Homo sapiens: one gene and its partners. The protein of the gene in region 1 interacts with the protein of each later gene in a biochemical or structural test. Each region holds a gene or a part of one and is shown in the gene's direction. Other genes may lie near its edges.

Evidence for each region.
Region 2: the proteins of USP25 (region 1) and SUMO1 form a complex in vitro, tested with the Homo sapiens proteins (2 studies listed by BioGRID).
Region 3: the proteins of USP25 (region 1) and HBS1L interact in a test that uses a peptide from one of them, tested with the Homo sapiens proteins (one large-scale study listed by IntAct).

The regions. Positions count from the first base shown.
Region 1 is NC_000021.9:15,827,338-15,830,994, forward strand, and holds part of USP25 (ubiquitin carboxyl-terminal hydrolase 25), read left to right. Parts: intron 1-1,003; coding exon of another isoform or gene 1,004-1,014; exon of another isoform or gene 1,015-1,348; intron 1,349-3,193; coding exon 3,194-3,264; intron 3,265-3,657. UniProt on the Homo sapiens protein: Deubiquitinating enzyme that hydrolyzes ubiquitin moieties conjugated to substrates and thus, functions in various biological processes including inflammation and immune response.
Region 2 is NC_000002.12:202,231,977-202,235,633, reverse strand, and holds part of SUMO1 (small ubiquitin-related modifier 1 isoform a precursor), read left to right. Parts: intron 1-3,589; exon of another isoform or gene 3,590-3,657. UniProt on the Homo sapiens protein: Ubiquitin-like protein that can be covalently attached to proteins as a monomer or a lysine-linked polymer.
Region 3 is NC_000006.12:134,981,721-134,985,377, reverse strand, and holds part of HBS1L (HBS1-like protein), read left to right. Parts: coding exon 1-37; intron 38-2,815; coding exon 2,816-2,920; intron 2,921-3,657. UniProt on the Homo sapiens protein: GTPase component of the Pelota-HBS1L complex, a complex that recognizes stalled ribosomes and triggers the No-Go Decay (NGD) pathway.

The DNA.
Region 1 (3,657 bases):
GATAAACTAGTTTGGCTCCCCATTTTTATAATCTCAATATCAGGTTCACAGGGACCAAAAGATTTTCCCTGGATTGCTTAGCTGATTAATGACATAGCAGATGGCCTGATTTTCTAGTTTGCTGCTCTAAATTTATATCAAACTGGTATTCACAGTTACTCCATTGGAGAAATGTCATACAATATCAATGTTTGTACATATCAATTAGGTACTAAATCTAAGTTTGCACAGGGAGTTCCGGTGATTAAAAAATTTTCTTTGGGCTTAAGAATTAGAAATGTGAATTTTAATTTTTAATAGCTCTAACAGATTTATGAGTATCTATGATCCCATTACTAGTCTGTAACAGAGTTTTTACTGGCATGCAGCAAAATAAGAAAAATAAGGACAGTGCTCTGGGTGGGGTGTGTGCACTTGTGTGCGTGTGCGTGTGTGTGTGTGTGTGTGTGTGTGTGTGTGTGTGTGTGTCAAGTTGCCATCTGTCCTTTCTTGGAAGGAACTCTCTTTTATTCTTTTCTATTCTATTTTTTCTTTTTTTTCAGAATAAGTTATTCTGAACTTTTCTCTTTCCTACTTTGCTGCTGTTAAAGTGTACTTAAAAAAATGGATTATGGTAGATTTTATTACATTTTTTTCCTTAAATGTGAAAATATAATTCCCTATTATCATTCCCCAATTTTATGCTGATTTATTGATTTTTGAAAAAAATGAACTATGTGACATGGTTGGAATTATATTGAACAATATTGATTGTTGGATATTATATGACCAACTTAACTCTTTATAGACAATATTTGAAAAAGAATGGCCCTAATTTAGTAAGAAGTACATAAGGTATGATGGTGACTAACAGCATTAGTAGCTGTCAAGATTTTCTTTAGTATTTTTCAAATAAGAGGGAATTTTTAAAAATATTTGAACTCATTAACAAACATTAATCAAGCAAATAGTGTTGATGAAGCACTATATTAGGCGTTGGGTAATTTTCTACTCCTCATGGCAGGTTGTTTTTAAAAGATTACATTCAGAGGAGTGGAAGCTAGGAAGCTTTTGACACCTAAGTAGTGGCATTGAGGGAGGGAAGAAGTGAATGTACTTAAAATACTCTTTGGAGACAACTGACAGATGTGGGTCATTGGCTAGAGGTAAGAGAGAGGGACGAATCGAATGATTCTCTCAGTTCATAATGGTATGAATAACCAAATAGAATGTATTTTGGAAAAAAGGTAAAGCAGTGGGCAAAGAGGTTCCCACTCAGGGGAGGAAAGAGAAATATGATGAGTTCTCTTTTGGCCATTTTAAGTTTGAAGAGCTTTTTTGAGACGGAGTCTCGCTCTGTCACCAGGCTGGAGTGCAGTGGCATGAACTCGGGCTCACTCCAGCCTCTGCCTCCCAGGTTCAAGCGATTCTCCTGCCTCAGCCTCCCAAGTAGCTGGGATTACAGTTGTGTGCCACCACACCCAACTAATTTTTGTATTTTTAGTAGAGATGGGGTTTCACCATGTTGGCCAGGGTGGTCTCAATCTCTTGACCTTGTTATCCGCCCACCTCAGCCTCCCAAAGTGCTGGGATTACAGGCGTGAGCCACCATGCCTGGCTGTTAAGATTTTTATATGTAATACTATGGATCAGGAAAGAAGGTTTTCCTCAGGATATTTTTTTTCTTTCTTTCATCCATATTGATGTTAGCAGTTAGCATTATTTTGTAAACTATTGTGTAATATTCCAACACACGGGTATGATGTAATTCATTTAATTCCCATATTGATATTTCCTAAATAGTGCTGGTCTTCGATATACATATTTATACACTTCTGTAAGTAGGATATGTTCTTTTTTATGTTCAGGGGTACATGTGCAGGTTTGCTATAAAGGTAAATTACATGTCTTGGGGGTTTGGTGTAAGATTATTTCATCATGCAGGTAATAAGCACAGTACCTGATAGGTGGTTTTTCCATCCTCACCCTGCTCCCACCCTCCACCCTAATGTAGGCCCCAATATCTGTTGTTTCCTTATGTCCACCATTTCTGGTTCAGAGTGTGTATATTTTAAATTTTGACGACTGTTTTAAAATTGTCACTCCAAAACATTAAACCAGTTTGCATTCCCACTGTGTGAGAGAGCCTGTCTCCCAGTATCCTCCCTAGCCCTGGACACTTTTTAGTAGTTTTTCACAATTGAAAAACTGGTATTTTAGTGTTTTGATTTGCATTCCCTTAGCTTCGAGTGAAGTTGGATATTTATATTGTTCTGTAAATTTCTTGTTTGTGACATTTGCCCATTTTTTAAGTATTGAGCTATTTGTATTTTTCTTATTACTTAATAGAAAGTTTAATGTATTGTGGATATTAACACTTTACCTATAATATCACATATGCTGCAGATATTATTTTCCCAGTTTTTCATTTGATTTTATGTTGGTTTTGTTTTCTTTTTATAATGTAGATTTTTTAAAGTGTTGGGCAGGGAGGATCTTATCTTTTCCTATAAGGTTACTAGTTTTCTGACAGGCTTAAGACAGGTCTTTCCCCACTCTAAAGTTAGCCAGTTTCTTTTATAGTTTTTCAAGGTTTCTTCCTGATTGGTTCAGCAGCTTCACAATATGATGTGGTTACAATCTAACCGTTTCCTTATTGACAGATATTTAGGTTATCTCTTTTTTAAAAATTATTGTGGACAATATGACTGTGAACATCCCTATCTGAACAATTTTGTAGGATTATTTTCTACTAGAAGTAGAAATAATTGTCATGGGAGTGCCATAATTTTATTTTCACTGGTGATTATAGTCGATTTTTATTCAGTTATGTGTGTGTACAAGATATGTGGTGAACATGTTTTACTTTGTTCTTAAGTTTACTTGTGTTATAGCAATATGTAAGGAAGCTTAGCTTTCATTTTCATTGAAACTCTCCTTTATAGATTTGAACAAAATTCACTTTTATTGGCTCTGCACATTTTCTAGATAAATCATATTTGTGTTGTTTTTAAAGTATGCATTTGTACTGTGTCTTTTATTAAGAATAACTATAATTCATTTTCTACAGATTTCAAATGGTAATGTTTTTTAAGAAAAGTTTTAGGAAAATTTTCCTATTCCTCTAACATGTTTGTAGGAAAAACATTAGTCCTTATCTTATAAGTAGAAACACATTTGCTGTTAATCATTAAATGACACCTTATATCCTTAGATTTGCAGGAAAGCATATCCAGAATCCATCGAACAATTGAATTAATGTACTCTGACAAATCTATGATACAAGTAAGTGAAATTTTGAGCTAGTAATCATTGTCAAAATTATTTACATATATTTTAATTTACCTTTACATTATCTTAATCTAATTTTTCTTTACATGTTTTGTTTTAAAATTTTGGCAAATCTTATTGTAAAATAATAAGGGCTTGCAATATGTACAATGTGACAGTTCATCTGAATGGGGAAACTTTTATAACAAATTTATAACAAAATTCATGACAAGTTTTCCCCATTCAGTTGTATTTTCACACCGTATGTGTTGTGTACCCTTACTATTTTACAGTAAAATCTACCAAAGTTTTTCAAAAGGCTATAGCATCTTTAAAAAGTCTTATGGGAGAAAATCTATGGTTGTTAAAGGATATTAAGATTTGGGAAGAAACTTAAGGACTCCATTA
Region 2 (3,657 bases), on another chromosome or scaffold:
CTCAGGAGGTTGATATGGGAGGATCACCTGAGCCTGCGAGGTCGAGGTTGCAGCAAGCCAAGATCATGCCACTGTACTTCAGCCTGGGCGATAGAGACCCTGACTCAAAACAAAGAAGACCCAGTACAAGTTCAGTGTTGAGTGCTAAAGACTTAAAAGAGTTATAAAGCTGAACCCTTAATCTTAAGAGGTTTATAAGTGAGAACAAGAATCTCCAAATCCTGTACTGTTTAATATCAGCATGAGACTAAACCACTGTCCTAAGAAGACAACCTTAATTTGAATCAAGTTATTTTAGAGTGATGTGTTTTCTGAGGCAGCTCTCAGAAGGTTATTGTCTGGTGTTAAAATAGTGAAATTGAGTAATAACAAGGTTAAAATCGGTGGACATTAAATACACACAAGACTTCAATTGCTGGGTCCTCCATTGATTAATGAAAAAATGATTGTTTTTGGAATTTGAGTGAAACACTTCTTAATGGCTGAGTAGGGTGGCTTACGCCTGTAATCCCACCACTTTGGGATCACTTGAGGCCAGGACTTTGAGACCAGCTTGGCCAACATGAGGAAAGCACGTCTTTACTAAAAATACAAAAATTAGCTGGGCCTGGTGGCTCATGCCTGTAATCCCAGCTACTTGGGAGTCTGAGGCGAGAGGATCGCTTGAGCTTGGGAGGTGGAGGTTGCAGTGAGCGGAGATCATGCCACTGCATTCCAGCCTGGGCGACAGAGCAAGACTCTGTCCCAAAAAAAAAAAAAAAAAAAAAAGAAAAGGAAAAAAAACAAAAAACTTTTTTTTTTTTTTTTTTTTGAGACGGAGTCACAAAAAATTAGCCACCATGCCCAGCTAATTTTTTTGTATTTTTGGTAGAGACAGGGTTTCACCATATTGGCCAGGCTGTCTCGAACTCCTGACCTTGTGATCCGCCCGCCTCGGCCTCCCAAAGTGCTGGGATTACAGGCGTGAGGTGCCGTGCCTGGCAAAAAAAAAAAAAACACAAAAAAACCCACTTCTTTATAATTTTAACAATTCCAACATCATCTAGTAGATTTGTGTACCATTATTAAATAATCCTTTAAAATAAGTTCTAAACCTAAGGCCCATAGACCATAAAGACTGAAAGTTCGCTTACATTGTATGGAGTGTTTTGTGAGTATTTGTGCATACGTATTTTTTTTTTTTTAAGATAGAGCATTGCTCAATTGCCCAGGCTGGAGTACAGTGTGGTGTGATCTCGGTTACTGCAACCTCTGCCTCCTGGGTTCAAGTGATTCTCCTGCCTCAGCCTCCCTAGTAGCTGGGATTATAGACACATGACACCATACCTGGCTAATTTTTGTATTTTTTGTAGAGATGGGGTTTCATCAGGCTGGTCTCGAACTCCTGACCTCAGGTGATCTGCCCGTCTTGGCCTCCCAAAGTGCTGGGTTTACAGACGTGAGCCCAGCCATATATATATATTTTTTTTAAATAGGAGAAAGGACCCATAGTCTCATCAGGGGTACGTGATTCCTCAAAATGGTTAAGGACCATCCTTTAACCAGTAACAGAAATCTGATTGGGTGCTTTCCTTTAGCCCAGTCTCACCTTGTAGCAAAACAAAGTGCTCGTACAGAACCCGAAGCTTAATATCAAAAGGATAAGGGTAATTTGTACAAATATTTTCCCCTTCCTCCTTTCTGATATTTGAGTTTATAGTGTTTCTTTTTTATACCAAAATCATTAAAGGTAGCTTGGTCAGCTCTTCAATTCAAGTCTGTTAATTGTAGCAATTGGATGACTGTTCCACTCTAACTGAATCTGTATTAACACCCCCAAAGAGAGATTGAATGATTTCCTTTTATCTTTAGTCAAGGATTTGGAAGCATTGTGTAATTCTGATTATCTGATACATTACCTCAAAATTTTGTGACTTAAAACAACAGCCATTTATTTTGTTTATAAATCTGCAATTTGGACAGGGCTCTGTGGATTAGACTCACCTCTGCTTCTTGGTGTGTGGGGCCTCAGCTGAGATGACTCAAGTGGCTGGGGGCTGGAACAGCTAGTTGTCAGGTGAGATGAGACTGGATGGGGCAAGTGTCTCCATATAGTCTCAGAGCCTTTCTTAGTGGTTTCATCATGTGATGTCAGCATGGAGACCCCAGGGTATTCAGACTTACGGCTCAGGGATCACAGAGAGAATAGGTGTTCCAAGAGAACCTGGGTGGAAATAGCAAGTCTCCTACAACCTAGCCTTGGAAGTCACGTCTGTAATTCTGTTGCCCACTCAAATCACTAAGGTCAGCCAGATTCAAGGGAAAGGCATTTATTTAGACACTGTTTCTCAATGGGAGAGTAACAAAGAATTTGCAGTTATCTTTAATCTACATTAATTGTATTTTTGCTGCCATGATAGTATTATTCCCTGCAGTGTTCTATATAGCTCCCTGCTATTGATTTTTACTGATTTTAGAAATTCTTTGCTTGAGATAGCAGGAGAATATGATGAACTGGTTGTGTATTAAAATTCATAATTGTGTGTACTACTATTTATATCATAGAATAGATATGTTAAACTGTAGTTATTACTTGAGTATGTAGTTAAGCATTTCATGCCCTAGGAGAAGAAGAATACTGTGTCCGCTCTGATAGACATGAGGTCCTGCTAGTGGATGTTACAAATGTATAGATTGTAGCATTATCTAAACAAACTTTACTAGTAGTTTAAAAATTGAATATGAATGTTATGATTACTCATTAAGATTTAGTAGTTCAGATTTAAAAACTATTAAGTAGTTGTCAACTCATGACATCCTTTAGTCCCGAAGGCAGTTAGGGTATCTCTTTCATAATTTTTACATGTAATGTTACAGTTATTTACGTTCCTTTTTTTTTTTTTTTTTTGAGATGGAGTCTTGCTCTGTGGCCCAGGCTGGAGTGCAGTGGCATGATCTCGGCTCACTGCAACCTCTGCCTCCTGGTTCAAGTGATTCTCCTGCCTCAGCGCCTCGAGTAGCTGGGATTACAGATGTGTGTCACCACGCCTGGCTAGTTTTTATATTTTTAGTAGTGATGGGCTTTCCCCATGTTGGCCAGGTTGGTCTTGAACTCCTGACTTCAAGTCATCCACCTGCCTCGGCCTCCCAGAGTGCTGGGATTACAGGTGTGAGCCACCGCGTTGCCAGTTATTTACATTCTAAGTGTCTTTTCTCCATTACATCAGGCTTTATTTATCCTCTTTTTCCTGTAATGCTTAGCACATTGAGTGGATAATTAGTAAAAAATTTTTTAAAGGAGAGTGGCCAGATTCATTCAACAAATGTTTATTAAATGTCACAATGTTCACAGCATGATTCTAGGCCCTAGAATTGGAAGGTCGCCTCAAAAACATGAAACAGCAGGTACCTTCCTCCTCCTCTTTCAGTCCTCTTGATGTTGTTTTGTTATTGAGGCAGGGCTGGTTGCCATGGAATAGTTTTTCTCTTATGATATTTTTGCATACCTTCTTCATCTTTACTTCTGTTAGCAATAGACCTGGTAACTATATCCAAAGTTGAATCATTTACTTCTTCCAGGACACTGGGATTGTTAAGGATGATTTTTTTTTTAAAAAATGAAAGGTCTCACATATTTATTACTGAACCTAGCCAACCAACACGTTCATAACAGATTCA
Region 3 (3,657 bases), on another chromosome or scaffold:
AAACCTTTTAGATTATGTGTGTCCGATGTTTTCAAAGGTAAGTGCTACCTTTGTAGTGCTTCTTCAGTATAGCCCCTTTTCCCCATTCCCTCCTAACCTCCTTTCCTGGACTAAGTTATGACAGTATATTGCCTTCAGAGTCTCTCCTCTCCATGCCCAAGTAAGGATCACTGTCAGATTAATCTTAAAATGCACAGATTTAGTCACTTAGCTTCCCTGTCCAGGAAAACCTTCAGTTTACTCACCATTTCTCATCTTTCAAGCATAAGAAAACCTTGCCTTTTGTCTTTCTAACTTTATAGTTTTTTTTTCTCCCATTAGATTCCTTTAGTTTTCAAATCCTTCAACCAAACTGGATTGTTTATTGTTTCTTAACCACACAGGATGTGTTTATTGCCACATGTCTACCCGTGCTTCCCTGTTGTATTGTTCTTTCTCTTTACTTGTCCATTTCCTCCCCATCTGTAACAGTCTGGGTCCAGTTAGGAGTTAGATACCATACATAGGTGAAATGGGAAATGTAATATAAAGAATTATTAACTATGATAAAAATGCAACTAAAAGATATACAGAAACTTTATAGATAGGGCTGAGGAAGGACCAACGTAGAAGAGGTTCAGAGCTTGCTGGAAGAGATGATATATTAAATACCTAAGAATATATCTAACTTAATAAGGGCAAGATCCTATATAGAAGACTATAAAGTGGAAATACAATTTAAAAACTCAATAAATAAAAGGATATAAGATTTATTATTACAATAATAAAAACTGTAAGGATGTCATTTGTCCTCTAAATCTCCATTGTCACAGAGCCAGCAATGCAGAGTGAATGTGGAACTGAGCAGCAGTAAATTGGTAACCGGCGTGCTTACCTGCGCACATGCCCTGACGCGTCCCTCTGTATTCTCTGTATCCTCTGTCATTGTGCTTTCATGCAGCATTATAATTTTTTCTATGCTGTCTGTTTATCCCACTTAGATTATGAACTCCTTGAAGGCAAGTACTATCTCTTCTTTATCTATATCTGCGGCCCTAGCCCAGTGCCTGGCACATAATACATTTAACACATGAATAAAAAAATGAATGAATGAAGGTGCTTTGAAAAAATCATGCAATGAAATCAAAATTTATCATTATCATTATTAGCTTCCAGTGTTCTAGTAATAGAGGAAATATGCTAATAGTTTCCAAGATGCCCATTGTTTATCAAGAATACAAGAGGTGGTTACTTTTCTTTGATTAACAGTGTTTGCTGACTGTACTTTCTCACCTTCTGTTCCCCCTTCAGGCTGCTTCCTGGCTTCCGCCTACGCTGCTCTCCTGAGTGTGTTCCTCCTGAGGTCATGAAATGACCTCTTGGTTGCCAAAGTCAATATACACTTTCAATTCTATCTTACTTGAATTTGGCATTGGTTCTGATGCTGGTAGCCACATCCACCTTGAAACTCCTCCCTTGGTTTCTGTGACCTGCTTTCTCCTGTTAACCTGTCTATTTCTCTGACCTGTCTATCTCTGACCTCTCTATATCTTCTCTATGGGCTCCTCATTCTCTGTCTTTTAAACAGTGTTCTGCTGCCTCAGTCCTCTTCTTAGTCTTCAAGTTCCTTTTGAACTGACATCCATGAGTGTCTCTACCTTCTGCATCTTGATGCTTCCCAAATCTGTATCTCCAACCCAAACCTTTTCACTCATTCTCCACACACTTGTCTAAGCACTACTGGACATCTCTCCTGGGAGAGTGTTCTTTTAGGGGTACCATTCTCATGGAATGTGGTGTGATTGGTCCCCCCGGAATGCAACTTCTGCATGTGTGTGTCTCATAGACACTTCAGATTTACCAAGCCTAAAATGGATCTTGTCCTTAGTTTCATATCTCACAGTTAATGCATCATCATCTCACATTTTCCCCTTTCTGTCATTAGTCTTCACTTTCCTTACCACTCCAAACTTGTTATTCCTTATTCCCGAATTCTTGAGTTTATTCCCTTTCTGTAGTAAGTTTGTGCATTTGTATCAGCCTCTACTCTAAGACAGAAATACCATCACCTTACTTCTCCGGTCACAATATTTACTGGCTTCCTATTACTTAACTGCAGGATGAAATTTAAACCCTAAGCGTGATTTATGAGACCCCTTTATTATTTCTCCCTTGCCTATCTCTGTTGCCTCCTGTCTTACCTTTTCTTCATTATTCTATATGGTCCCCTCCCCATGGCCCCCACAAGTGACACATGACTCTTAGCCCATCCCACATTTGGTTATGCCTTTGCCCACACAGTTTCCTGGGGCAGCAGTGTCTTCCTTTTTCTCCCTACTCATGCATACAAGCTACCTAATAAACACTTATTCCTTCTTCAGAGTGCCAGATGTCTATTCTCACCATCATGGATTCTTTGGTGCACCTTTGTGTTTCTATTGTATATTTTACATATTATTTGTCTCAGGACAATGTAATTGTTTCCATCTTTCTCTTCACTAGTATAATATCTTTATGGGCAGGGACTTACATTTTTATTTTTTTTTATCCCCAGAGTTTAGTATAATATCTGGTACTACGTATTTATTATTTCTCAATAAATATTTGAGAAAGGAATGAACCTTTCTTTGGTAATATGAGTATTTTTATTTGCAAAAAAAAAAAGTAAAGTGTGGTATGCCATATTTAGTAGAGATGTTAATTCTGAAATGATTATTATTTAATGTCCATTGAACTACTAGTTTTATATGACTACTTGAGAACTAAGTATAGTTAACGGTATTAATCATCAGATAACATTGCTGTATGAACCATAAGATTTTGGTATGTTTTGCAGATCAAGGATCTGGATTTTGCATAACTGGTAAAATAGAAGCTGGTTATATCCAAACTGGTGACCGACTACTGGCAATGCCTCCTAATGAAACTTGTACCGTGAAAGGTATTTATCTGCAAGATGCTTTTGCTAAACAAGCCTTAAGTTGAGACAGCAGATTTTTAAAAAGTGGTTTAGTTACAACTCCAAAGTAAGTAACCTCTTACTGAAATTGTAACTGACTGTCAAAATGATACTGACTGTTGAAGATTAAAATGTGAAAACATTAAACGATTTTTTTCTGTTGTGATTGTGTCTGTATATATATGTACATAAACATTCTAACTGTAGTAGCATTCTATTTTTGACACAGATCTGAGAAGCCTGGTTAGGATTTAATCAGATATGTATAGATACCTCACAGATGTATTTGGAATAATATTCTGTAGCAGAAATTAAATCTAGTCCCAGCCTTACCCTAACTAGTCAGTGGCAAAGCAGCCTTCTACAGTCTGTTACTTTGAAATGTATGTTTCAGAATAACTATAAATTAACAGCTTTGATCATGTTTATGCCAAAAATGTAGGTATATTTTATAGGAAGATATAAGTAACATTCAAATGGAGAAAAACCCAATGTTGAAAAGAGAAATTGAACTAGTTTAAATTGCCAGTCACTGTTTCTGCATATAGATCTAATTTTTTTCATAATGACTGATAATTGTTTCTGTCTTCTAATATATACACACATATATATATTTATGTATATGTATACATGTTATATGTTACATGTACATGTATATTATTTTCCAGATTTTGACTAAAACTTTCTAATTCTATACCTCTTTTATTCTGGCTTCCAAC